4 linked regions of the Homo sapiens genome follow. The protein of the gene in region 1 purifies or fractionates together with the protein of each later gene. This does not show direct contact. Each region holds a gene or a part of one and is shown in the gene's direction. Other genes may lie near its edges. The genes, in order: SLC18A1, SFXN5, ZMPSTE24 and PXMP2.

Region 1 (7,025 bases):
TAACTCTCTGCGCAGGTCTTGGAATGCTGGCCAGTGTCTACACTGATGACCATGAGAGAGGACGAGCCATGGGAACTGCTCTGGGGGGCCTGGCCTTGGGGTTGCTGGGTAAGTGGCACCAGCTGGAGCTCTGGGTTCGGGAGGGTGGGACTCTAGGAAGCAGGTGTTCCCGAGGTGTAGAAGACGAGTATTTTCCTTCCCTTGTTGGCCTCATCCTATTTCAACTCCTTTAGAAATATCACTGAGAAAAGGTTAAATTTCCTTCTCCTTAAGAAGCTGGGAAACACATAAACGTCGGAGAAAGGTCCGGAAGCCCAGCCTGTTGGAGGAAGTGAGCCTCCCCGATTTAGAGGCCACTGCTTCGCCTCGGTTCCCATGCACACAGCACCAGAGCATGGCTGCTGCCAGATGCTCTGCTAAATCTGTTACACGCATAATCTCTTTTATTCCTCACCACCAGGAATGAAAGGAGGAATGATTTTCCCCATTATAGAGATGAAAATAAGAATGGCGAAAACACCATCCAACATCACACAGCTAGGAAACGCCACAGCCAGGATACAGACTCCGATTTTCTGGGCTTGGAAACCCAAGCCCCAAACGATAAAACTACCCTTTCTTTGAGGCTCCTCCCTCATACAACTTAATTGACAAGCTACATGCTTTCACTTATTACATGCCAAGCACAGTGCCAGTACTGTAGGGTGGGAAGCCCCAGGCATAGTTCCTGCCCTCTAGGAGCTTACAAGCTCATCGAAAACAAAACACCTGAAATTTCTTCCCCGGCCTATGCCCCACCCTCTAGCCCCATGGGAAGCAGAGGAAACAGAATCCCTGTTATTTGCTAGTATCCATCAACCCAAATGCCCAAGCTAAACCCTGTGCATCTTGAAATCCTTTATCATGTCCCAAATGAATAAGCTCCCAAATGAACAAGCTTGTTAGATCCTCAACAGCCACTCCTGGCTCCTTGTCACTTCTGGGTTAGAATCTGGCAGCATCCTCCCTCTTGTGTACTCCCTCCTTCCACCACGATGCTGCCTGAACAATCTTCCTGAGCCCAGAGCAGGTGATGTTTCTCACCTGATGTTTCTCCATAGGCCGCAAGGCCAAGTACATGACTCATCTGCATATACAAGGTTCCTGCATATGCAAGGCTCTACTTTTCTCCTCGCAAATATTCATACTCTGCTAACACCCGCTTTCTTCTTTTTCTTCTCCAACTACACACTCTTTTCTGACACCTCTGTGTTCTTCACACAAGCTTCTTCCCCTCCAGATACTCTACACTTGGCAAAGCCCTCGTGGCTGCCTGAAATTCCTGAGACATTGACTGTGCTTTCATTGCATGCAACATTTTACTGTCAAACTTTCACCATGCTTTAATTATCTGTGTCCCTCCCTACACACACACACACATACATACACACACGCGCGCGCACACACACACACACACACACACTTCCTCCACTAGAAAGTGGGCTTGATGGGGACAGGGATCATGTCTCCATCTCTGAATTCCCAGAGCCTCAGGTGGAGCTTAGCCCCTAGCAGGCCTTCTGCAAATGCTCACGGGGTAAATATGGATAATTCTCACTGCAAAGGACTCACCCTCACCTCTGGAATCTGTGTCTCCTATGCCTCTCCAGTGGGAGCTCCCTTTGGAAGTGTAATGTACGAGTTTGTTGGGAAGTCTGCACCCTTCCTCATCCTGGCCTTCCTGGCACTACTGGATGGAGGTAAGTCACCATCAGAGCCTCCAGCAGGTGACAGCCCAGGTCAGGTTGGGAATGCATTATGTTGTAGTGTCAGTCTTCACTAAGAATGGGCGGTTTGGACATGTTTTGATGGATCAAGGACTGCCCCGTTGTAGAAAAGAAAGAAGAAACTCAGGGAGTTAAATTTATGCATAATAGGGTGGTAGCACTACAGCTGTTATTGGAGCCCCCAGCTAATCAGTAGACACGCTGAACTGTCTCACCTTCTTTGTTTCTTAGCACTCCAGCTTTGCATCCTACAGCCTTCCAAAGTCTCTCCTGAGGTAAGCAGACACAAAGCTCCATTTCTAACAGTTATACAGGATGGCTGAATGCAGGAACCCAGGCATGCCTGCCAAACCATAAGAAGAAAAGTGAAGAGGAATAGGGTCAGCGAAAGTGAGAACTGTGTTTGGATTCCAGGATAGGGTTACGTTTCAGGTAGTGTGGGGGATAGTGACGTATTTGGCTTGATGTTGGACAAAGATGGTGGAAGAACCTTGTGCATAATCAAAGAAGCCATAGAGAATCTATCTATCTATCTATCTATATATTCGACACATATATGGGGTATGTATATATATATTCATGTATATCTGGAGATCTCCATATATATATATATATGTGCACACACACATGTAATTATAGCTAGGAGATAATGACATTGGGGACTGAGTATTTGGAGCTGTAACATCATCTCAGAGATGAAGGCTGTGGGGGCCACCTAGACAACATCTTCTGCAATAAAAGACATCCTGTGTGAATATCCCTAACTGTCATTCTGTCACAGTTAATAAATATCAGAGTTGGTACTTGTTTGACTCTAAGCCAAAAACAGCTCTGGAAAATCCATATCCCACCACGAAGGAAAAAAAGTAAGAAAGTGCATCAAGTGTAAAAATGTTTGATCTAAAGGCCTTGACTTTGCATTCCACAGCTTGTCAAGGTATTCCGGAAGTCATGACACTAACACCTCATCATTCTTCAGGGCTTTTCACGCACCAGGAGCTCAGCTTAGTGCGCCATCTATGCTGCATCTTACACATTCCATGAAATAAGTACAATTTTTAGCCTCACTCTACAGATAATGAAATCGAGGGTGAACAGAGAAGCATCTGAAAGAATTTGAAACTATGACATAATCAATACTTTTAGAGTGCCAATTCCCCCAGAGCAACTAGGAGCCTCCCGCAGTCTCCTGAGATGCTCTGCTCTTTACAGACTGGCTTTAGGAGTAGGATGTCTGGGTCCTGGAGAGGGAAGTCATAACCACCACCCATCCAGGACTCCTCAGGGCAAGGAGCACCAAATACCCTCTGCACAGGCTCCCAGGCCTGGCATATGCTTGGGCCCAGCACCCCTCCAGCCCTGGCCCAGGCGTAGGGACACTCATCCAGGTGGTTCAGCCACTGTTTATTATTAACTGTGCAGCAGTGGTGAATTACTCAGCAAGTAAATCCAGCTTGAGATTCCAGGAAAGTGAGGCACCCATAAATATCTACTTTTTTGAGACGGAGTCTTGCTCTGTCACCCAGGCTGGAGTACAGTGGGGCGATCTCGGCTCACTGCAACCTCTGCCTCCTAGGTTCAAATGATTCTCCTGTGTCAGCCTCCCAAGTAGCTGGGATTACAAGCACGCACCACCATGCCCAGCTAATTTTTATGTTTTTAGTAGAGACAGGATTTCACCATGTTGGCCAGGCTGGTCTCGAACTCCTGAGCTCAAGTGATCCATCCGCCTCAGCCTCCCAAAGTGCTGGGATTGTAGGCATGAGCCACCGCACCCAGCCCATTCTCTCTCTTTCTAACAAATATACATTATTATTATTATTACTAATGTTTTGAGCCAGTTGACAGTAGATTGATTGTATCGTTCCCTTACCCCTTGATACTTTAGAGCATTTTCCCTAAGAACAGGATTTTTTTTTATGTAATGTCAATGGAGCTATCAAATTCAGGAAATTTAACATGGATATAATACTTTAGTCTAATTTGCCGTGCCTACTCTGATTGTGTCAATTATTCCGATAATGTCTTCCATGGAAGTCTTTTTTTCTCTAATGCAAAGCCCAGTCCATGACTGTGTAAGACATTTATGCATCACACCTCTCTAGCCTCTTTTAATCTGGAAAAGTTCTCAGCCTTTATCTTTCATGACATTGACATTTGTGACAATTATCTATAGGGTATTCCTAAATTTGGTTTGTCTGATGTTTCTTCATGATACCGTAGCCTTCTGAGTTTCATGTCTGGAGGTATTTAATGCCCGTCGCCTCTCAGTGGTGATGTCCATTTTGATCACTGGGTCAAGGTGTTGTCTGGGTCTCTTGTGTAGTAATTACTTCTTCACCTTGTAACTAATATATAACATGTGGGAGATGTTGTAAAGTCATATAAATCTCCTACTCCTCCTTAAATTTCCTTTCTGCCTAGATTTGTTATCCATTGATGATTCTTGACTGACCCAATCTTTACTATAATGTTTACAAAATACTGGTTTTTCTAGTTCACCAATTCATCCAAATCATCAGTTGGCACTTTGCTGTAAGGAATAGCCATTCCTCCAAGGCAGGCGGATCACTTGAGACCAGGAGTTTGAGACCAGCCTGGCCAACATGGCAAAACCCTGTCTCTGCTAAAAGTACAAAAAAATTAGCTGGGCATGGTGGTGCACACCGTAATCCCAGCTACTCAGGAGGCTGAGGCAATAGAATCCCTTGAACCTAGGAGGCGGAGGTTGCAGTAAGCCACTGCACTCCAGCCTGGGTGACAAAGTAAGACTCTGTCTCAAAAAAAATACTCTAAAAAACAAAAAAGCAATAGCCATTCCTTTCTTACTCTCTTTATATGTATATATTTATAAATATTTATACCAAATAGGTATATAATAATTTTATGTACATGTGATTATGTTCACAAAAAACTTAAAAAACATTTATTTATCTGATATTATCAGTGTAGAATCATGGAGTCCTATTTTTGTAGTTCATCACTCTATTTACTTGTTTAATTTTTTTTTGGAGACAGGGCCTCTTTCTGTGACTGAGGCTGGAGTGTAGAGGTGTGATCATGGCTCACTGTAGCCTCCAACTCTTGGGTTCAAGTGACCCTCTTGCCTCAGCTTCTTGAGTAGCTGAGACTACACAGGCATGCCACCACACCCAGCTTAACTTTTTATAGAGACCGGGTCTGCCTGTGTTGCCCAGGCTGGCCTTGAACTCCTGGCCTCCCGTCCTTAATTATTTTGATGCTCAAATTGTCCTAGATTTGACAAGTCAAAGCCCATTAACTTGTTGCTGTGTCATTTTAACATACCTTCATTGTTTTTTGAGTAATGTTTTACTTTTCGATACAAAAATATGTCCTACGTTCATCTTGTACTTTCCCTGCCTCAGCCCTGAATTCATTTCCCCAAGGAGCCCAGGTTCTTGTTAGTAGGGAATGGTGTTTAGAAACCAAACTATGGGGCCGGGCACGGTGGTTCACGCCTGTAATCCCAGCAGTTTGGGAGGCCGAGGCAGGCGGATCATGAGGTCAGGAGATTGAGACCATCCTGGCTAACACAGTGAAATCCCGTCTCTACTAAAAATACAAAAAAATGAGCCAGGCGTGGCGGTGGGTGCCTGTAGTCCCAGCTACTCAGGAGGCTGAGGCAGGAGAATGGCATGAACCCAGGAGGAGGAGCTTGCAGTGAGCCAAGATCATGCCACTGCACTCCAGTCTGGGCTACAGAGCAAGACTCTGTCTCAAAAAAACAAAAAAAACAAAAAAAACAAAAAACTATGGGGACTCAATGTGCTCTTTGCCATTGGGGTCACCTTGTTTCCCTGCCATCTTGATGACAGAGCTAATACACACACACAAGTTTGTACTGAGACCTCCACTTCCAGCCCAACTCCACGGGATTTTTCCCTGCTTGCCCCATTCCATACATGTATTCTTCTTTCAAAGTAAGAAATTTGTCTCCCCCTATTATACAAATAGGTGAAACACCTATTTTACAAATAGATTAAAAAATTTACTTACTTGTATAATTCTATAATACTTACCCATGCCATTATAAAAAACAAAGCTACCAAGAAATATTCAAGACTTTTCAGTTCTTTTTCCCTTAGACTTAATGAATATAGCCAAATACTGTATCTAGAAATTACCGTACTTCCATTAGTTCTTTTTTCCACCTTTAGTGTGATTATGTAATGCATGATACATTTGAAATTCATTTGCATCCATTTGTGGGGTTTTTTTTTTTTGGCATTTAGTTTTAGTTTTTTTTCTCCATTCTGGCTAATTATCTTAGTCTGTTCAAGATGCCAGAACAAAATACTACAGATTGGGTAGCTTAAACAACACATATTTATTTTCTCACGACTCTGGAGGCTGAACGTCCATGGTCAAGGTACTGTTGAGGGTTGGTTTCTGGTGAGGCCTCTCTTCCTGGCTTGCAGACAGCCACCTTCTCAGTGCGTCCTCACATGGCCTTTACTCAGTGTGCATGCACAGAGGAAGAGAGCCCTGATGTCCCTTCCTCTTTTTATAAGGAAAACAGTTTTTCAGATTAGAGCCCCCACTCTTATGACCTCATTTAACCTTAATTACCTCCCTGAAGATACTGTCTCCAAACACAGTCATATTAGGTTAGGACTTCAACATACTAATTTGACTAAGGTGGGGGGACTCCATTCAGCCCATAACACTAATATAATTTATTTTTTTAATATATAGGACATTACCACCTAAAAGTCAAAATTATTCCAAAAGGTGTACTCAGAAAGTGTCAATCCCTCCAGTCTTTCTAACCCTCCCCCTCTCCCACCCCTACCACTCATAGGTAACCAATTTTAATGCCTTCTGGTTTGTCTTTCCTGTGTCTTAGTGTTTTTTCCTCAAAATAAATCGCTTATGTGTTTTCTTATTTTTCCCTTTTCTATTATATGAAAGGCAGCACACTATGTATTCTTTTTTTTGCGTTCTCCTTTTTTTCTCAATAATATGTCCTGAAAATTACTCTACTAGTTCACAGAATCTTTCCTTATTATTTTCCACCTGGTGGTGTATATATATATATATATATATATATATATATATATATATATAGACACACACACACCCACACACAATTTTGTATGTGTACACAATAGTGTGTGCGCCATATTTTATTCCATCTCCTATGTTTAGGTAGTTTTCAGTATTTTATAGTTATAAATAGTGCTGTAATTTGCATGACTGCATGTTTATAATGTTGTCATTAATCTTTAGAGTCAATTC
Region 2 (7,025 bases), on another chromosome or scaffold:
CTCTGAGGGATAAGACTTGTGTTCCCGAGATGGAGATGAGACGATGTTCAGTGGTGTAATGCTGACTATGGAGCTCAGAGAAAGAAACCAGCAAAGGCCAGGAAAGAACTACATGGGAGGAGAAGAATGGCACTGGCAACCGGCATCCAGGGAGCGCTTGCTGCAGGCTGCATGCTGAGGCGAATTTCCTCCACACCTTACTTCCTCTCATAACCATCCTGAGAGGTACTGGGATTGTCCTTCACTTAACAGGTGAAGAAACAGAGGCACAAAGAGCTCCAGTGACTTGCCTGTGGTCACATAGCTGGTAAATGCTGGCACCAGCATTTGACAACCAGAGCCTGAGCGTTAATCACTAGGTCCATGGTAGGACACCCAAAATGAAGGGGAGCAGCAAAGGTACAGACGGATGTGCAGAGAGCACAGCTGCCAGGGGGCTGGAGCGGCAGAGGGGACTTCAGCCATGTTATGAACTATAAATGGGAGCAGAGATAGGATGTGTGATTTGGCCAAGGTCCTGCAGCGCGATAGGGTGGAGGCTGGGCTAGAAATCATAGCTGTTGGCTCCTGTTTCCCTCTCCTTCCACTTTCCTTGGTACCAGCCACATTCTGGGCGCTCTCCACCCGTCTGCGTGGCCACGCCTGAATCGTTTCCCTCTTGGAAGAGGTGCAATCCACTGGCATTGAAGCTGGGTGGACTGGCTCCCTCTCTCTATCCATCTCTTTCTTCCTTTCCCCTGCCATGTTCTGGAAAGGGCAGCGGGAGGGAATGTGGGCAGGTTGCACCAGAGATATACATCTGAGAGCTGAAGGGAACATTTATTTTTAATTTAGACTTAAAAAGAAAAAAGGAAGTTATAAAATATCTGCTCTTGCTCCTGGGATTGTGCAGATGGTGCTGCGTTTTGCCTAATAGGGAATTGGGCTGGCATCCTCGTGCTTTTGGTCCCCGCCTGACTGTAAGGACCTGGAGGGCAGGATCCCTGCTTCCCTGCCTCAGCCTCACATGGCCCCCTAAGGCTCCATTTGGCCGATGCAGCTCGGTGTTCCTGTCTTCTAACCTCACCCTCTCCACACTCCCTCTGGTCTCCCAGACCTCCTCTGCAGTCAGACCAGTCTCTCTGCTGTCTCGGCTGTCCCTGCTCCTGTGTCGGCGCCCCCTCGGCTCACTCCTACCTCCGCCTTCGTTAGATAGCCGGGACACACTCACCCCTCCCTTCCTAAACTCCTGTTTGGATGTTAAAATTTATCAACTTTACACATAACCAAATACCTCATTAAACCATCTTGTCATTTTCAAGCCTCGGTGTTATAAAGGATGTCATCCTCCATTTTCTTGTCTGGTTTTTGTTTTTATTGTGGTTAAGGAGTGTGTGTGTGTGTGTGTGTGTGTGTGTGTGTGTGTGCGCGCGCACTCATTCCTCTCCTCTGGCTTTCTCCATTGGGAGCAGCAAGGAACTTGGTACGTAGAAGCAGCTCCTCATAAATGGATGCAGAGTGCTGATTGGATCTCCCCTCTCTCTGCGCTCAAGGGGATGAGCTGGAGAAGGAGTACCCTAAAATCAGAGTCCGGGCCCCCAAGCCAGGAACCAGGAGACCTGATTCTCTAGCTTGCTATGAAGCTATGGACAGATTACTGAATTTCTCTAAGCCTCAGTTGTCCCGTTTGCAAAATATCAAAAGTAATCTCTGCTTTGATCCCCAGGGTTAGTATGAGGATTATGATAAGTGAAATGCGTGGCAAAATCAAATCAGTCAATCCATCTCTTTAAGAAAGAATGAGGAGACTCATAGCAGTCAGAGGTGCCAGCATGGACTCCAGACCCATGTTAGGGTAGGAGGTTGGGATGCAAAGTGGGGATTGTCTAACAAAGTAAAAAGCTTGCTGGTCACAGAGCCATGGGCAGTGTGTATGTGTGTGGTACATAGCCCAAATACTAGTTTGGTTTGTTCTGGAAAAGACTTGATGTCACTTTTAAAAATGCTTGCCACTAAAGATAAATCAAGTGAAGATGAAAATGAGACAAAGGGAAGGTTAGGGAAGGGAAGATAAAATGAAGCCAGAAGTGAGGTTTGGGCACAGAATCCATGCAGTGTGGGTCTGTACACTTGGCAGATGGGGCTGTGGAGAGCTGGCCTGAGCTTCTGACGGTGCAAAGAGACTCAGTTGAATGGCTCAGTGTCTGCAAGGCACATGCACACCAGTTATTCAGAGGCACAGTTCCTGACCCTGAGACTGGAAAATATTTCCCCCAAGAGGATTATAAAGGGAACCCTGTGGTGTCACGGGCAGTGTCCTGGACAGCAGTTGTCTGGTAAATGCAGTGAGTGCTATTGGGCTGTATCTTACGATGTTCCTGGTGGTCCAAGTACAGTTCGAGGGGTAAGTGGGGATTCAGAGGAGAAGACAGTGTAGTCCATAAGACACCGTGTTCAGTAGACTCCAGATCAGGGGATGACGTGCTGGGCTCCAAACAGTGAACAGCCTTATTAACTTCCTCCGGTGGTAGAAGGCAGTCAGGCATGCATACGTGTACACATAGGAGCACATGTACTCTTCACCCACCCCCCTGTCCCATCCCCACCCCCGCTAGGCTCAGCTCCCTCCCTCTGGTCTGGCTTCTAACTGGGGGCCCCAACTACGAGGAGGTCCTCAGTTTCCTGGGATACTCCTTAGCAGATGGGATCCCATTACAGAAAAGACCGTCTCTGTTGACTTGACACCTACTACCCAGAATTTGGAAGTAGAATTTTAAACTGAGGTCAGCCCCTTCACTTTCATAGTTTAAGAAAGTTAGTGCCCCAAAGGGGATCATTTTCTGCCAGAGATCACATGGGGATGGAGCTGAATCTAAGACCCAGGTTCCCCTGATTCTCACTCTAATTCCCTAAGCTGCCACTGCAAAGAAAAAAAAAATCAAGTTGGGATCTCATTCTGGGGGAAAAATCTCATAATTCCTCGTTGGAGCTATGGAATAGCTTTATATTATATAATTTTATTCAAACTGATATGAGCCAATAAATATAGATTGTGTGTGTGTGTGTTAGCTGTTTTAAAACATTTTAATGTTTAAAACATGATTTACTAATGCTGCTGGGGATGTCTAGAATTTGATTTACTGCATATTATTGAGTGTTTATACTTGTTCCTTACAGAAATTCTTGCCAAAGAGCCATTTTATCTACAGGAATAATAAATAAGTCAATATGTGGATGGTTGTGCACATTTTTCCCATATGCAGTGGGACTTGGTAGATGTTACTTTGCACACAAACACTCAGAAGGTAAACTGGAGAGATGCACATGGATCCCTGAAGTCCAAGGCTTGGCCAGTGTCAAAATCAGACCATTCATCTTGACTTAAACCAAAAACACGGTCAGCAAGTCTAGGTCTTAGGTGATATTTGGGCTTTGGGAATAATGGATCTACATGTTCCCATACCTAGCCATATGTGTATATGTGTATATTTGTTCATTTCTTCATTCATTCCTTTCTTCACTCATTCAACAAATATTAGAAATCTATGTTTCATTCAGTTGCTTAAACCTGGTATAGGTTTTTGCTTCATGGAAATTCACAGATAACAGATACAAATTCCCCCAACTTGTATTTACAAAGCACTTAAGGCCTTTGAAATGATTTTTGTTTAATCCTCGCAAAAATCCTACGGGAAGGCTAGGGTGAGCAGTCAGGTAACCTGAGTGGAAACGAAGGTATTCCTTTTGTTTGCTTGTTTTTATTGCCCCCCTAATTGTGGAAATAATACATGTCTGTTGTTTAAAAGAATACAGAAATATTTAAGATTGTGCAAAAGTAATCTGCAACCCAACCTCCAGAGACATCCACACTACAGGTTTTTTCATGCTTGAAGATAATGTGTGTATGCATGTGTTTGTGTATATCGTTATATATAAAATGATTTTTCTTTAAATAAATAAGATTATGCTGTAATATAATTCTGCAACTTGGTTTTTTCCCATCACACAGCCTCTCCCTCAATGAACCTCAGTTTGTATGTACACGGCATACCACATCAGTTTGTACAGATCCAGCTCACTCATTTGTGGTAGCGTATTTTTTCTTTGCAAAAGCATAGGATGTTTCTTCTGCCTTTTTCAGCATTTCTTCTCTCTTGCTCATAGGTAGTCGGTCTTCTCTTGCCCAACCAGACACTGGCATCCACTGTCTTCTGGCAGGTAACAGTCTCGCAGCAAACAGGGCTCCTGAAGGAAGGGCCCACACAGGTGCTGGTTAAGAACTCCCTGCTGTGGTGTCTCCTGCCCCGTCCAGACCCCGTGTAGGGTCAGTCCACCCCAACACCACCCCTAGCCCAGAAGCCACTGAAGGAAAACCAGGACTTTGGCCCTGCTGAGCAGGTCTCCAGCAGCCCAGCATGTCTCAATCCACCATGTGTCACTCTAACCTTTGGACAGAGGTCATGAGGGCTGCGTGCCCCTGCCTGGAACATGCTGGCTTGTCAGTGGGGTGGCCCCCACTCTGCCCCTTGGCTGCTCATCCCAAGGCCAGTGACCCTGAGGCCCATAGCCTCATTTTGACATCAGCCTCCCCCACATCTGCTGAGGAAGCTAAATCCACCCCTAACCTGAGGTTGTGAAGTGCATCACAGACCCTGGTCCCTGCTCTTGGAGACAGTCTGGGTTGTGATGCCATGAAAACTGAGGATATCTCTGTGTTTGTGTGTGCAGAGAAAGACGGGCAGGAAGGAAAACCTGTCTGTCTTCTAGGAGAAAATGTCAGTCTTCCCTGAACTAAACTCCTGCCGGCCTCTGTGTCTGGGAACTGGAGGTGCAGGATACTGGACTGGGAGATTTTTGAAAGAATTGTAGGGCTGTCAGTCATTCTAGGCCAACTTTTGTCCAGCAGGTAATATAATAAAGATGGTGTGACAAAGGCAGTGGGGTCTGCAGGGGCAGTGAATGCCATCATTCCAAGAGAGGTGACTGTCTCAGGATCAGGTGGACTACTGGGGTGCGCAGGACCCCATTCAGGAACCGAGAGACTTCCCGAGAGGCAGGGCTTCCAGTGCTAACACCAGCACAGCCCTGGGCAAACCAGGACGGTCAGTCATGCTGACCGGCAGCATGGGCGGCACCATGTGAGCTGGAGACCGCATGCTGTGCCTTTCTGGGGATGTGTGGCCTCCTGGGGTCCAGGCCTGGCTTCCAGGGAGGTGACCACTCCTTCCCTGACTTCTCTCATCATTGCCTTTCAGTGGCTGAACCAGAGCCACAATGCCTGTGTCAACTATGCAAACCGCAATGCGACCAAGGTGAGCATCACTGCCCTCTCCCCAGTGGTGGGGTTCAGGCTAGGGAGGCCCAGTCATCCTCCCTACAGCGTGACATGCCACCATCAGTGGCTGCCTCTTGGTTAAGCATGGCCCTCCTCTAGATATCTTATTTAAAATGCCAGCCCTTCAGGTGGGTGGCCGACTCAGACATGACTCAGCTGAGGTCAGCTGCAGTTTCTGGGCCAGGAGCCCTCTGGGGAGGGGCTGTTTACATGAAGTGAAGAAGGCCCATTAAATGGGAGCAGTGCAAGGGATGAGTTCGGCTGGCTTTCAGATTCTTCTTGGGTAGCTCTTACATTTGGGTTTTGGATCATGATGGTATCAGCTACTTGGGGGCAAAATTCCCATAAAGCTTCCTCCAAAATTTCTGGAAGCTGCCTTAGCGCTCCCAGGTCCCGACTGCTGGCCACAAGCTGAAGGGCTGCTCCTGAGTGGGGAGGGTCCAGGGCTGGTAACTCCCCCCCAGAGCCCCTGCACTCCTTGGAGAGCTTGTGGTGGAGGCCCAGTCACCCTTCTGTTGTCCAGGAAGGGCTGCTGGGCCCCTGCTTTGCTGGCAAGGCCACCTCTCCCCAACTTCAATTCAAAGGCAAAGAAGGCAGGATGCATCTAAGTCCCCTTTGGGGGCCTGTCAGTTTGGGGTAGAGGAGAGTCCTAACATTTGCTCACCTTGGGGGAGAGGAGGGGAATAGGAGCTGGCCTGGGCCATAGGAATTGAGAGGCCTGATATGCTGTGGCTGCCCCCTGACATCTAAACCTCCACCCCAAGTCTCTCTCATAGGCTTCACATATGGCCATCTCTGCTTGGATGACTCCCTTTATCTTAAACCAGACACTTCTAGACCTGCAGTTGTAGCACAGGGCAAGTTCCTTAGCTTTTTCTTAATTGTCTGTGTTGGAACTTGGGGTATATTATTCTCTAGAGATATTGGGCAGCTATCATCTGTTGACATGGGAGCCCAGCTGTTCCATGGGCTGGCAAGGCCTGTGAGAGCCTTGACACTGGCATTTCCACCTAGAAAGCGCTCCAGATGCCAAATGGCCCCCTTGAAACATTTAGCCTCTAAACTGAAGACTGCTTGCCCCAGCCTTCAATGGTCCATGTTAGCCTTGCTGTTCTCCACCTCCACCCAGCACTGTCTGCCAGTGACCTTTCTAGAACAGGGCAGGAGTGAAGTGGGCCCTTCAGTATCTCCCTGGATACTGGTGATTTATATTTCTGCATTGGGAACTGAGCTGAGGGTGGCCTGATCCCTTTGAGTCCTGAGGGGCCTCTTCCTTCTACCCACTTTCCAGGCTGGTGGGCAGGATGCTTCTTGCTGGCTGGGACAGCTTACAAGGGGAAGTATGGGAGCTTTGGGCACCCAGCAGGCCTGAAATTCTGCCTCTGTTTTCCAGCCTTCACCTGCATCCAAGTTCATCCAGGGATACCTGGGAGCTGTCATCAGCGCCGTCTCCATTGCTGTGAGTACTCCCTCCCCTGCTCCTTCTTGGCTCTGCTGCTCTGGGGCCACCCCGCTCAGCATTGCAGGTGGATGCTTGTCTGAGGGCCAGGCCAGGCAAGGATTTGGGAGACAGGTTTCTGTGGGTGGAGGAGTCAGGACAGGCTTTCCAAGCCGAGAAGAGGCTCCAGTAGACAGAGCACAACCTGGTGCTCCCTGTAATGGAGAGCAGGTGGGGAGGTGAGGTTGTGCCTGGGGGCACTGAGGCAGGACA
Region 3 (7,411 bases), on another chromosome or scaffold:
CAATCTTGTCTCGCTGCAACTTCAGCCTCCCGGGTTCATGCCATTCTCCTGCCTCAGCCTCCCAAGTAGCTGGGACTACAGGCACCCGCCACCACGCCTGGCTAATTTTTTGTATTTTTAGTAGAGACAGGGTTTCACCGTGTTAGCCAGGATGGTCTCGATCTCCTGACCTCATGATCCACCCGCCTCGGCCTCCCAAAGTGCTGGAATTACAGCCGTGAGCCACCGCGCCCGGCCAAAAAAGAAGAGTTTTGAAGAGTAGACTGATGTCAGGTAATGAAGGACCTCGAAGGTCATACCATATATACCATATATAGGTTGGGCTTTATACTATCATAAATGGACCATTACAGGGTTTTTGTTTTTGTTCTTTTTTAACAGGGAGTAACACAGAATTAGTAGCCTATATGAGAGACAGAACGTATGAGCTAGAAAGTAGAATGAGCTAGATGCAAAAGAAATAACAGCTGCTCTTGTAAGGGTACCCAGGCTGGAGTGCAGTGGTGTGATCTCCGCTCACTGCAACCTCCGCCTTCCGGGTTCAAGCGATTCTCCTGCCTCAGCCTCCAGATTATACGCGTCCACCACCATGCCTGGTTTTTTGTCTTTTGTTTTTTTTTTTGTATTTTTAGTAGAGATGGGGTTTCGCCATGTTGGCCAGGCTGGTTTCAAACTCCTGGCCTCAAGTGATCCACCCACCTCGGCCTCCCAAAATGCTAGGATTACGGGCGTAAGCCACTGCGCCCAGCCAAGGGGGATCATTCTTTTCTTGAGGCCAGAGCACTTATGGCCAGAGTTTCAATTAAGGGACCTTGAATGCTTGGTAAGCAGAGAATCAAGGCAAGATAGGGAAAAAGCTTGAGAGCAACTCTATGATTTAGGTTAGACAGGGTAGATGGACTACCCTACAGCAATGTCTATCACTCTAGGGATAATAATCTTTATCTTTCAAATTCAGTCATTTTATTTATTTTTATAGAGATGAAGTCTCACTGTGTTGCCTAGGCTGGTCTCGAACTCCTGCACTCAAGCAATTATCCCACCTTGGCCTCCCAAAGAACTGAGATTACAGGTGTGAGCCAGCACACCCTGCCAGTCTTTCTCCTTTAGCAAAATCCTGCCAACAGCCTGTTTTGAGGTTCCCATTTTTAGACTCCACACAGGCCAGCCCTTCTATTAGTACTGTCTTTCTGAAAAGAGAAACAAGTGATTATTCACTTTCCATAATTCACTAGTTCTCCACTGCCACCACATTAGTCTGCACTACCATCTCTCACCTGGATTCTTTTTTCTTTTTTTCTGATATCCTTGGCAACTGCTAAATCACCTGGATTCTTGAAATGGCCTCCTAACTGCACTCCCTCCTTCCATTCCCCATTAAATTTATTCTCCACGTTGTAATGAGAAGGATTGTCTGCTCAAAACTCTGCAATGCTCTGCTCAAAATCCTGCAATGGCTTATTCTTTCATTCTAAGTAAAAGTCTTTTAACTAAAAGACTGCATGATGGCATGGATCTGCACTCCCCCTCTTCCTTACTCTTTCCACAGCCTCTTGCCATTCCTCAGATATGATAAGCATTGGCCAATCTCAGGGCCTTTGCACTTGCTCTTCACTCTGACTGGCAATTTCCTCAGATATCCACACAGCTTGTTCTCTTACTTTTTTTGGGGGACTCAAATGCCAGTTAATCTGAGAAGGCTTCCTTGACCAACTTATGTAAAGCAGCATCCCTCACACCAACATGCTGTATTGCCTTTTTGCTGCTTTTTCTTCATAGCACTTATCACCACTTCCACTTTTACTATTAAATATTTGCTTATTATTTATCAAACACTGCATCCACCCCAGCTAAGAATGTAAGCTCCAGGAGAGGGGCTTTGGTTCACTGCTATATCCCTGGCACCTGGAAATGCGTCTGGCATTTCGCAGACATTCAGTATTTATTGAATGAATGAATTCCAGTCAGTCTTGGCTTTTTGACACCTCGGCCTCCTACTCTCCTATCTCTTCAGACACATGGTGACAGATCAATGCTATGATGCCCCTCTCCCAAGCAGTAGCTAACCTTTATTGGGCACTCAGGGCCATCTACATTGCTAGGAGCTTTACATGAATTTTCTCATTTGATCCTAACAGTATGAGAAAGTAAGTACATACTATGTTATTCTCATTTTACTGATGAGGATCTGATGCACAGATTAAAGAACGTGCTAATACATGGTGCGGCCGTGGCTGGCAATCAAGCAGCTTGACTCTAAACCTGTGCCCTTAGCCACAAAGCTTGGGTGGTAGAAGCTCCTGTGAGGCTTTGGACTCACAGACAGCTGAAGTCAAGAGTGAAGAGGGCATAGCAATGATGGCCTGAGGGAGAGAAAATTTTGAAAAAGTGTTTACCCCTTATATATTTAAGTTGGTATCTAACTGGTTCCATCATAAATTCAAATAGTTGCAATGGATGTAAATTCTTGCAAATTGTAAATACTGACATTTTAAGATAAAACTGTTAAATCACTCTTTATAATGTATCCAAGAGAATCTACATAACAACTGAATAACCACCATTATGCATTAAAACATACACTAATGAGCTCTTCAACATTGTTCTTTTATTATCTCTAACATATTTAGATTGTACTCTAACAAAAAATGTTATTCAAATATAGTACTTTGATGTTTGAACAACCTTTTCTTGATCACTTCTTCGCAATAAAAATATGACATATGTAGTAAACCTTAAAAAATTTCGTGTAACTTTATGGCTCTACGCTGGAATTCTTCTGAAGTGAGTAATCATCACAATCATCTTTAGTATATAATGGATCAAAATGACACGATTGCAAATATTGATAACACACAGTTATAAAAGGTGAAATTCTATTGGGAACACATCTCTTAGTGAGATAGATGGGGCTGACCCACCAATTAATTCATTTATCTGGATGAATAGTTCCTACTGGTAGATTAACAGGGTTCATTTTCAATTCTGTTGTTTTCACAGATACAAGTGCTGAGAAATGGTTTTACATAAATAGGTGAGAATGCTAGTAGTTTTGTTGTAAGCATGTCAATCAATCGTTTGGTTTCTTTCCGAGTTGCATGCCAAAAACCAAATAGTGTTCCTTCATCAGCTGACAATTCATGGGCCACCATTAATTTTGTTGAAAGCAAAGAACTGGAAACCATCTGACTTGAAAAGAATTTGTTATCCTGTTATTAGAGTCATTCACTTTCTCTAGTGACTTTTAATTATACTAATTACTCTCAGAGGCATTTAGGCAGGGTTGAGAAATTCAAGATATTAATTTCAACACATCTTTAGCATCACAATATCACAGTAATTTAAATATATTTTAGTTGTAGCTATTTAGCTCACTTTATTGTAAATAATAATTATGCTAATTAGCAACGATAGTATGTTTAACCAATTAATCATCAGATTAACTTTCGGTCAGAATAATGGACTTCAATTTTTAAGTCAAAGCAATGTACAGGCGTCCCAGTCACCATATTTCACTTCTGAATTCCAAGAGAGAAATGGCGTTGCGCCTTACTGACGCAAATATGTACCTAGATAAAGTAAGACGCTTTCATTTCAGGTATGTCTAACCCACGCTATCCTTGCTTTGTTCCAGGGCACTCTCGCAGGGAAAACGCCGCCTCTGACTACACTTGGGGTGGTTAAGACGAGATCTTCAAATGAAAATTCTCAACGCTACCGTCCACTCTCTCATACGCTTGAATTCCGAACACCCCAATACTGGCCAAAAGACTCCATTTCTCATGCTTGGTCTTGCTTTTGAGGTAGCTCTAACTCAGAGGCACGATTTTTAGAGCCTGGGAAGTCGGCTGCTGTTCAGTCCTTCCTAGCCTCCTCAGGCGGGAGCCGCGGCCCACTCAGTCAGTTGCGGCCCACTCAGTCAGTTCCGGCCCCAGCCCCGACTACCTGTCGCCTTGTTGGGGGAAGGAAGGCAGATACCGCAGCCCAGTCAGGGTAAGCCGCTGACCCAGAGGATGGAACTGCGGCTCTGGAGATTAGAAAGAGGAGGACTTCGCCGCGTTCACTAGCCCAGGAGGAAAGCCAGAACCCTAGGCCGGAACCCAGCGTCAAGACGTGGGGGAAGAATGTTGATGCAACACAGCTCAGCCGGGCCCGGAACTCGGCGTTTGGGTCCCCGCCCTCTTTGGGCCGGAAGTGAGGAAGGTGGGGCTGGGGCTTTTCCTGTAGAAACTAGGAGGGACTAGGGAGAGTCTGCAAGGGGAAGAGTGTGTCTGTGACACTGCCAGCAGCGCGCAGAGGGAGGGATGGGGGCGGGTATCGGCGTAGGGGCCCTCGGAAAGAACGGATATTGCTGTGACACCGCGGGGACGCTCTGAAGGGACGAGTGTCGGTGTGGCACCGGTGCACGCTGAAGGAGCCGGCGGAACCGGGTGGCCATGGGGATGTGGGCATCGCTGGACGCTTTGTGGGAGATGCCGGCCGAGAAGCGTATCTTCGGGGCCGTGCTGCTCTTTTCCTGGACAGTGTATCTTTGGGAGACCTTCCTAGCACAGCGGCAGGTGAGCCTAGACAGGGTCCAACCTGACCCCCATACCCGGCCAGCCCTGGAGTAGCCTTGGCTTCGACCCTGAGACTCTTGATTGCTTCGGTCCCCGCGCCAGTCTCGTCTTTGTGGTCCCTGCTGAGTCTCGTAACTTGGCCCGATGGCGGACTGTGGCTTTGAGGAGGGTCTTGGTGCGTCAAGGAAGTTTTCTGTAACGTTATCATGGGACCCAATCCCTTTAGGGCCTGGAGGAAGGCTTGGGCTCTTGTGCCCTCCCTGCAGCTTCCTTGGGATCCTTGGGCCCAGACTTGGCCTCCTTTATCTTTGGAATAAGCCTTTAAAAGGATTTAGACACCCAACTTCCTCATGACATTTATGTAATCATGCCTAACCATAGGATTTTGCAGTCCTTCCAAGAACTTGCACTCTTGTTTCTCCTTAAAGTGCATATATTGTTTCTGCTTGAAAAAACAAACAAACAAACAAAAAACTTATCGGGCCCGGCGTGGTGTCTCATGCCTGTAATCCCAGCACTTTGGGAGGCCGAGGCGGGCGGATCACCTGGGGTCAGGAGTTCGAGACCAGCCTGACCAACGTGGCGAAAACCCGTCTCTACTAAAAATAGAAAAATTAGCCGGGTGTGGTGGCGCGCACCTGTAGTCCCAGCTACTTGGGAGGCTGAGGCAGGAGAATCATTTGAACCCAGTAGGCGGAGGTTGCAGTGAGCTGAGATTGTGCCACTGCACTCCAGCCTGGGCGACAAGAGTGAAACTCAATCTCAAAATAAATAAATAAATGAAATTAAATGAAATATATTTCTCGTTTTTCATAAAATCAACATTATTTTAGTTTAAATATTAAAATGGTAAAATAAAAAGTGAAAGTTAACAATTTACCTGAGATAACCATGGTTTAGAGATCTGAACTTTTATTTATTTATTTTTAATCTTTATTTATTTATTTAATTTTAGAGTCTAGCTCTGTCACCAGGCTGGAGTACAGTGGCGTTATCTCGGCTCACTGCAAGAAACTAGGAGGGACGAGGGAGAGTCTGCAAGGGGAAGAGTGTGTCTGTGACACTGCCAGCAGCGCGCAGAGGGAGGGATGTTCAAATGATTCTCCTGCCTCAGCATCCCGAGTAGCTAGGATTACAGGCACGTGCCACCACGCCCAGCTAATTTTAGTATTTTTAGTAGAGACGGGGTTTCACCATCTTGGCCAGGATAGAATATTTATTGTATTTAGAGACAGGGGCTCACTCTGCCACCCAGACTGGAGCACAGTAGCATCATCATAGCTCAAGGCAGCCTCGAACTCGTGGGCTCAAACGACCCCTCCACCTCCACCTCAGCCTTCTGAGTTGCTAGGACCACAGGTGCGGATCACTGTGCCTGGCTAATTGTTTGATTTTTTTGTAGAGATGTTGCCCGGGGTGGTCTGGAGTTCCTGGACTCAAGTCATCTTGCCGCCTCCACCTCCCAAAGGGCTGGGATTACAGGCATGAGCCACCGTGCTCGATCTCCCCTCAGCTTTTATTGGCACACAACAATATATAGGGAAAGCATGTTGTAGTGGCCCATTATTTTGTTTGGTATCCATTCTCTGTATTACATTTCCTGGACTGAAATTACCCTTACCTTTTATAATTTAGTATAATGAGATAGTTGATCTTTCTCCTTTTTTTTTTTTTTTTTTTTTTTTAAGGAGATAGATTCTCTGTCACCCAGGGTGTAGTGCTGTGGCACAATATGGGCTTACTGCAACCTCTGCCTCCCAGGCTCAAGTGATCCTCCCACCTCAGCCCCCCAAATAGCTGGGACCACAGGTGCATACCACCACACTCTGCTAATTTTTGTATTTTTTGTAGAGACGGGATTTCACCACATTGCTCAGGCCAGTCTTGAACTCCTGGGCTCAAGGAATCCTTCTGCCCCTGTCTTCCAAACTGCTGGGATTACAGGCGTGACCCACCGTGCCCGGCTGAAAATTGGTCTTTTCTCACAGACCTGATATGTTTCCATCTGGTGATCCTCAAGTTTCTGGCATTTAGGACCAAATTTAATGAGCAGCCTCAGTATCTGTTCATACTCACAGTTAGCATGTGTGCTTCTCCTTTGCATGAATTTGTTTTCCGTATTATAGGAGGTATGTAATACCCAGAATGAGTAGTACATGTAACAAAGTTGTGATGTTAACAGCTTTGGTTTACATATACAAACTGAAGTGTGATGACAACCCTGATTATAGTTTTACCAGTCAGGTCACCTCAGGTTCTCTTGTTCTGCTTTTATTTTCCTGCATCAGTCGTTTCATGTACTTGATCAAGTGCAATATTTGTGTAGGTATAAAGCAAATTCAACAGATATAAGTGGCAAGCTATAAACCATTCGATGTTTGATCATAAATGACTATTGTAATAAACAACTATTTCACTAAAGTGTTTTCTTTAAAATATTTCAGAGAAGGATATATAAAACAACAACTCATGTACCACCGGAGTTAGGACAGATCATGGATTCTGAAACATTTGAGAAATCTCGACTCTATCAACTGGATAAAAGCACTTTCAGCTTCTGGTCAGGACTCTATTCAGAGACTGAAGGCACTGTGAGTAATTTACTTCTTGGAGAGACAGTCTGTCTGGTTGTTTTCATTTTCATATTTTTGTAACACAAAAGAGGGTACCACACTTACAAGTCCCAGAATGCTTTCTTAACCTTTGTTATTGATAGTAACGGCTGTGGAGCAAAAAAGACAGAAACATAACTGCTTAGTCAGTTGAAAACTATAGAATATGGGAACTATTACCCTGAAGCCAGGTAGGAAAAAGATCCTCTTCCATTAGGATCCAGCTGAGATGTCATGTCT
Region 4 (7,025 bases), on another chromosome or scaffold:
TTTTGTATTTTTAGTAGAGATGGGGTTTCACCATGTTGGCCAGGCTTGTCTTGAACTCCTGACCTCGTGATCCGCCTGCCTTGGCCTCCCAAAGTGCTGGGATTACAAGCGTGAGCCACTGCGCCCAGCCGTATTTTATTTTATAGATTACAAAACATTCTGAGAAGGGGGTCCACAGGCTTCACTAAACTGCCAAAGAGATCTGTGGCACAAGAAGTTTGAGACCCCTACTGATAACACAGAAGAGTTCCGGGCCTGGAGGTTAACCTACCGGCATAATCCCAGTCAGAATCCAACGCATGGGAGGCGTGTTCACCTGCACTCAGCAGGTGTGTCTGTTCTGACTGTCCCACCTCCCCCGTTCACGAGCACCTTCAAATCCTCACCATCTCTAGGAGCACCAGCCAGGTTGTGCTGTGTGTCTGAGACGTGTCACCTTTTTTTTTTTTTTTTTGAGACGGAGTCTCACACTGTTGCCCAGGCTGGAGTGTAGTGCGTGATCTCAGCTCACTGCAACCTTCGCCTCTTGGGTTCAAGCAATTCTCTGCCTCAGCCTCCCAAATAGCTGGGATTGCAGGTGCCCGCCACCATGCCCGGCTAATTGTTTTGTGTTTTTAGTAGAGACGGGGTTTCACCATCTTGGCCAGGTTGGTATTGAACTCCTGACCTCGTGATCCACCCGCCTCGGTCTCTCAAAGTGCTAGGATTACAGGTGTGAGCCACTGCACCTGGCGTCACCTTCTGTCCTGAAAGTAAATTTGTTTTAACCATTCACTTCTCCATACAGAAGTTATAAAGGTTCATGTATTCAAACATGACATTATTCTCCTTCATGCCTTTCCTTACAGGAAGATAATAGAAATATTCTCCTCTGCTTTCCTCCGGTATTCTTATGGTTTTACTTGTGTACAGTAGGAGATAGACTTCTGTGTTGATTTTTCCACTTACATAGCAAATTTTCTCATTACCATTTATTGGGCAATCCCCAGTATTTTGAAATATTCTCATTTCCATCTGTACAGGCAATTATCTGCACTCTTTGTTCTTTTGCTGGATTATTTTCTTTTTTTTGAGATGGAGTCTCACTCTCGCCCAGGCTGGAGTGTGGTGGCACAATATCGGCTCACTGCAACCTCCGCCTCTCGGGTTCAAGTGATTTTCATGTCTCAGCCTCCAGAGTAGCTGGGACAACAGGCGCCCACCACCACGCCTGGCTAATTTTTGTATTTTTAGTAGCAATGGGGTTCCTCTGTGTTGGCCAGGCTGGTCTTGAACTCCTGGCCTCAAGTGATATGCCCACCTTGGCATTACAGGCATGAGCCACTGTACCCAGCTTCTCCCCCTTACTTTAAACAAGAAAATATTTAAGCATTTCTTTAAAAATTTTTTTTAGTTTGTATATATTTAGAGGGTACGAGTGCAGATTTCTTATGTGACTGTGCTGTGGTGAAGTCTGAGCTTTTACTTCCCATCACCCAAGTAGTCAGTGGTGATTTTCAACCCTCTTCTCCCCGCCACCTTTTCAAGTCTCTGGTGTCTGTTATTTCCCTCTGTTGGTCCATGTATACCCACTGTTTAGCCACCACTTATGAGTGAGAACATCGGCTGAGGCAGGAAGGTCACTTGAACCCAGGATGTCGAGACCAGCCTGGGCAACAGAGTGAGACCCCTTCTCTACAAAAAAATTAAAAATCAAAGGGTTGTGGTGGCACATGGCTGTAGTCCCAGCTACTCAGGAGGCTGAGACGGAGGCTTGATGTCAGGAGGTTGAGGCCAAGTGAGCCGACATCACGCCACTGCACTCCAGCCAGCATGGGCAACAGAGTGAGATGGCGAGACCCTGTCTTGGAAAAAAAAAGTGAGAACATGCAGTGTTTGACTTTCCATTGGTGAGTTGTTTCACTTGGGATAATGGCCCCCGGTTCAATCGACGTCACTGCAAAAGACATGCTTTTTTTTTTTTTTTTTTTTTTGACACAGAGTCTCGCTCTTTCATCCAGGCTGGAGTGTAGTGGCGCAATCTCATCTCACTGCAACCTCCGCCCCCCAGGTTCAACGATTTTCCTGCCTCAGCCTCCCAAAGTGCTGAGATTACAGGCGTGAGCCACCGTGCGCGGCCGAGTTCATTCTTTTTTTTATAGCAGAGTAGTGTTCCGTGGTGTATTTATGGCACTTTTTCTTTATCCAGTCCTCTGTTGGGGGACGTTTAGGTTGATTCCACGTGTTTGCTGTTGTGGATAGCGCTGTGATAAACACACGAGGGCAGGGATTGTTTGATATGATTCCTTTTCCTTTGGGTAGAGGCCCAGTAGTGGGATTGCTGGATCGAATGGTGGTTCTATTTTCAGGTCTTTGAGAAATTTCCATACTGTTTTCCAGAAGGGCTGTACTAATTTGCATTCCCACCAGCAGTGTGTAAGTGTTCACTTTTCTCCACATTCTTGCCAGCATCTATTGTTTTTTGACCTTTTTTTTTTTTTTTTTGAGGCAGAGTTTCACTGTGTCAGCCAGGCTGGAGTGCAGTGGCACGATCTCGGCTCACCGCAACCTCCGCCTCCCGGGTTCAAGTGATTCTCCTGCCTCAGCCTCCTGAGTAGCTGGGATTACAGGCACACGCCACCATGCCCAACTAATTTTTGTATTTTTTTTTTTTGGTAGAGACAGGGTTTTCCCATGTTGGTCAGGCTGGTCTCAAACTGCTGACCTCGTGATCCGCCCACCTCAGCCTCCCAAAGTGCTTAAATTACGGTCATGAGCCACCGCGCCTGGCCACTTGACTTTTTAATAATAGCCATTCTGACTCGCGTGAGGTGGTATCTCCTTGTGGTTTTAATTTGCATTTCTCTGATGATTAGTGATGTTGAACATTTTTTCATATGTTTCTTGGCCACTTGTTTTTCTTCTTTTGAAAAATGTTTGTATCCGTTGCCCACTTTTTTAATGAGGTTATTCATTTCTTTCTTGTTGAGTTGTGTAAGTTCCTCACAGATTCTGGATAACAGTCCTTTGTAGGATGCATAATATGCATATATTTTTTCCCAGGCTGTAGACTGTCTGTTGATTGTTTCTTTTGCTGTGCAGAAGCTTTTTTGTTTAATGAAGTCCTGTTTGTCTGTTTTTGGTTTTGCTGTATTTGCTTTTGAGCACTTAGTCACAAATTCTTTGTCTTGGCGGACGTCCAGAGGAATTGCTCCTAGGATCTTTATGGTGTCAGGTCTTGGGTTCAGGTCTTGAATCCACCAGCTGACATTTAGAATGAACTTACTGGAGTCCTTTTTTTTTTTTTTTCATAACTCCTAACAAGTTTTGATTGGAAAGACATCGACTTTGGAGGTTATTTGGGAGGAATTGACAGCGTAGCTCTGAGTAGCAGTTCTGGTGCCCAGGGCCAGCCTTGGGAGTCACCTCCTCCAGTTGTCCGCAAGGAGTTTTGGGCCAGGACAGACATCACTGCCAGCATGAGCAGGCTGCTGTCTGGCATCTCACTGATCATTTTCCATCTTGCTGGTTGGCTCCTTAGAGCCGCAGTGCTGAGTACACATGTGTGCTGTCTGCGTACACACAGAACAAAATCCAATAGCAGTTTAAAAACCATCACGATAGGGTCTGGGTGCCCGGAATTCAGTTCTGATGGGCAGTGAGACTGTTCACCACCCGCCTTCCCTCCTTTGCAGGGGAAAGACGCCTCAGCCTTCGCCGCCAAGATGAGGGGGGGCTTCTGGCCGGCGCTGAGGATGAACTGGCGGGTGTGGACGCCACTACAGTTCATCAACATCAACTACGTCCCTCTGAAGGTGAGGGCCACGGGGCTCAGCCTCTGCTAACATTACTTTGTCAGCCTTTTCCTTCCTTCCTTCCTTCCTCTTTCCTCCCCCCCTCCCTCCCCTCTTCTTTTCTCTTCTCTTCTTTCTTTGGTAGTTTTCCGCTAGACTTAGTTTCATCCGTGTCTAGACTCCTCAACTACCCTTGGATTTTGCCCATGACCCTGAATCATTGCTAGTTCGGGATTCAGGAAGCAACAGAGAAGGGTGTCCCGAGTGGTCGTCTTTGCCTCTTCTGTTCGTTCAGCAAATTCTCATTAAAAGCCCCCATGCCAGGGATGCCTATGAGTTTTCTAGCCTTTGAAACATTCCCAGTCCCAGGAATGTACATGCAGGCAACTTGAATCTATGCTCCTGGGTTGCAGTCCTCAAACTTGGCCCAAATAAACTCTAGTTATACTTAGAAAAAGAAGGCCGTCACAGTAGCTCACACCTGTAATCCCATCACTATGGAAGGCTGAGGTGGGCAAATCACTTGAAGCCAGGAGTTCGAGACCAGCCTGGCCAACATAGCGAAACCCCATCTCTACTAAAAATACAAAAATTAGCCAGGCATGGTGGCAGGTGCCTGTAGTCCCAGCTACTCAGGTGGCTGAGGCACAAGAATCACTTGAATCCGGGAGACGGAGGTTGGAGTGAGCTGAGATTGTGCCACTGCACTCTAGCCTGGGCAACAGAGTAAGACCCTGTCTCAAAAAATAAATAAAATGTTAAAAAGAAACAAAGCATTCGTGGTCCCTGGGCTCATGAATTACAGCTGAGCCTGAAGGCAGGCACTGTGCGGCCATGGGTCCTGCCGCTGGCCTGGAAGAGCTGCCTCACCTGCAGCCATGGCAGCCACACCTGGGCAAGGGGTGGGCCCATCCAGGTGCAGAGTGAAGGCCTTCTGGGTAAGCTGAGCCTTTCCGCTATCCTGTGCATGAAGGAGCTGCTGTGGGGGCTGAGTCAAAGGTGTCAGATTGGGGCTGGGCTGGTGGTGTGGAGGCTGGAGCTCCAGGCTCTGCCACTGGGATCAACTGTCTTTATGCACAGCCAGGGTCCCCAGGACCACTCCCACACTGGGAGGATGGGGTGCAGCACCCCCTGCAGCATGGCAGGATACCCCCAGATGCTACAGGAGGAGGCCTGGCAGAGCCTGCAGGGGCCACGTGCTTCCCTCCCCCAGAAGGTATGCCGCCCATCAGGGTTTTTTACTGGTACTCTGGGCGGGCATCTCTGCCTGCTGCCCCAAAGCTCCAGACCCCTAGAAAGACAGCAGCTGTGTGGAGCCTGCATTGTTGGTGCAAACAGTCCAGGCACAGGGCAGGTGGCCCTTCTGGGAAAGGTGGGTGCCGTCCCAGCCCAGGCTGCTGCTAGGGAGGACCTGAACAGGCCTGCAGTGGCTGGACCTCAGCTGCAGAGGGCCTTCCTGCATTAGCACCGGCTCTGAGCCCTGCCCAGGAGGGAGGAAAGGACCAGGGTGACCCCCGAGGGAGAGGAGGGAGGCGGCCCAGTGTGTGCACACTGCACACACCACAAACACACCAAGAAGCAGCAGGAAACCAGGGGTGCACACAGACAGGACAAAGAGGCAGTTCACCCTTAGCCAAAGTTGCCAGGAGTTAAAGCAAAATAAAAAAATTTCCTTTGGCTTTAACAGTGGCCCTTCCCAGAGCAATTTCAGCTCTATGGGGCTGAAGCCAGATTGCCTTGAAGAGTGGGTGGGAATTATTTTAAAAATCACAAGTCTAGAACATGCTCTCAAAGTCTGTGGGGGCCAGGCATGGTGGCTCATGCCTGTAATCCCAGAACTTTGAGAGGCTGAGGCAGAAGGATCACTCAAAGCCAGGAGTTTGAGACCAGTCTGGGCAACATAGTGAGACCCCATCTCTATTTTATAAAAATGAATTTTAAAAAGTTTGAGAGAAGGTGAGAAGTGATGGAAGAAGGCTGGGTGGCAGAGGGGGTTCTGACACTCAGAGATGCGGCCATGGTGGGTGCAGACGTGAAGCTGCTTGTGGGATGGGCAAACACGCATGTCCAGAAAGAGCAGCTCTGCGGGGTCCCCTAAGGAGTCAGGGTGGATGTGAGCCCCCAGCACACTCACAGTGGTGCTTGGACAGAGGCCCTGCCCTCTGTGATGAGAGAGGAGAGAGAAAGTGACAGCTGAGCGGACAGGAGAGTGGGACATCCTGCCTCAAGCCCCCACGTGCCTCTCTGGAGGGCCAGGGGCTGGGACTGAGGGCAGAGGAAGTCAGGCGGGCATTTTAAGGGGATACAGGAGGGGCAAGTTTGGCCATGTGGAGGATGGGAGAGCATGCTGACTGCAGAGACAAAGACCTCTGGGCAGAGGGGGCTGGGGCTTGTCCAGCTGTGGTCAGCATCTGGGGAAGTGAGAAGGCAGGAAGGATAAAGGATTTTCCAGGGAGTGTGACTGAAGAACAGTAGGCTAAGGAAGCTACAGCCATGGGCCACTGGTTCTCGGGAATTTAGAGAAGGAAGCAGAGACAACTGAGAAGACAGACTGGCCGGGAACACGGAGGATCTGGGATGGAAGAGGGGAGAGCTGGGAAGCCGCGCCTCTGAGTAGCGTGGGGGCAGAGTCGCCATCCTAGGTGGGTGCAGGTGTATGCGGAAGCAGCATTCATTCAGCAAGCGTTTCCTGAGCAGTGACTGTGCGCCATGCTGCTAGACTCGGAGACGCGGCGATTAACCAGACACATGGGCTGCTACTTTCATAGCACCACGTGCCAGGGAGAGACTCAGCACTGGGCCAGAGGATTCTGGGGAAGGGTGAAGCTGCTGAGTCACCAAAGCAGGGCAGTGGGATGGTGATGGGTTAGAGGAGGGAAGGTCTGGGGCCCCTCCGCTGTTCGTCAGCTGTGTCCCCTGAGGAGGGTGCAGCCACCTGCATGATGGCTGGTCCTGGAGTGAGAGAGGCTGAACCAGGAGCTAAGGTGTGCGGTGAAGGGGGCAAAAGGAGAGTGACTTGGCTTTGGGATTCCTGGGCCGCTGTAGCCTGTGAACACTGTAACTAGGGGACCGTTTTTCTTCTCCACTCCTCTCTGCTAGGGGCCTAGCACAGCGTTTGGTACGAACAAAGGCTCAGTAAATGCAGTAATGGATGGGTGGTTGGACCAGCTGACCAACAAACGGGTAAACAAATGAACTGGGTGACTGAGGCTGGATAACTGGCCACGGCCTCCCGCTGACCGTGGCCTGTTG

Evidence for each region.
Region 2: the proteins of SLC18A1 (region 1) and SFXN5 purify together in Homo sapiens (affinity purification with mass spectrometry; 4 studies listed by BioGRID and IntAct, with this or other methods). This does not show direct contact.
Region 3: the proteins of SLC18A1 (region 1) and ZMPSTE24 purify together in Homo sapiens (affinity purification with mass spectrometry; 2 studies listed by BioGRID and IntAct, with this or other methods). This does not show direct contact.
Region 4: the proteins of SLC18A1 (region 1) and PXMP2 purify together in Homo sapiens (affinity purification with mass spectrometry; 3 studies listed by BioGRID and IntAct, with this or other methods). This does not show direct contact.

Annotation. Positions count from the first base shown.
Region 1 is NC_000008.11:20,166,119-20,173,143, reverse strand, and holds part of SLC18A1 (chromaffin granule amine transporter), read left to right. Parts: intron 1-15; coding exon 16-108; intron 109-1,649; coding exon 1,650-1,739; intron 1,740-1,997; coding exon 1,998-2,041; intron 2,042-7,025.
Region 2 is NC_000002.12:72,998,697-73,005,721, reverse strand, and holds part of SFXN5 (sideroflexin-5), read left to right. Parts: exon of another isoform or gene 1-1,331; intron 1,332-4,143; coding exon 4,144-4,197; intron 4,198-5,234; coding exon 5,235-5,291; intron 5,292-6,707; coding exon 6,708-6,773; intron 6,774-7,025. UniProt on the Homo sapiens protein: Mitochondrial amino-acid transporter. Transports citrate. Does not act as a serine transporter: not able to mediate transport of serine into mitochondria.
Region 3 is NC_000001.11:40,253,836-40,261,246, forward strand, and holds the start of ZMPSTE24 (CAAX prenyl protease 1 homolog), read left to right. Parts: upstream 1-4,400; 5' UTR 4,401-4,436; coding exon 4,437-4,559; intron 4,560-7,003; coding exon 7,004-7,150; intron 7,151-7,411. UniProt on the Homo sapiens protein: Transmembrane metalloprotease whose catalytic activity is critical for processing lamin A/LMNA on the inner nuclear membrane and clearing clogged translocons on the endoplasmic reticulum.
Region 4 is NC_000012.12:132,697,576-132,704,600, forward strand, and holds part of PXMP2 (peroxisomal membrane protein 2), read left to right. Parts: intron 1-3,674; coding exon 3,675-3,794; intron 3,795-7,025. UniProt on the Homo sapiens protein: Seems to be involved in pore-forming activity and may contribute to the unspecific permeability of the peroxisomal membrane.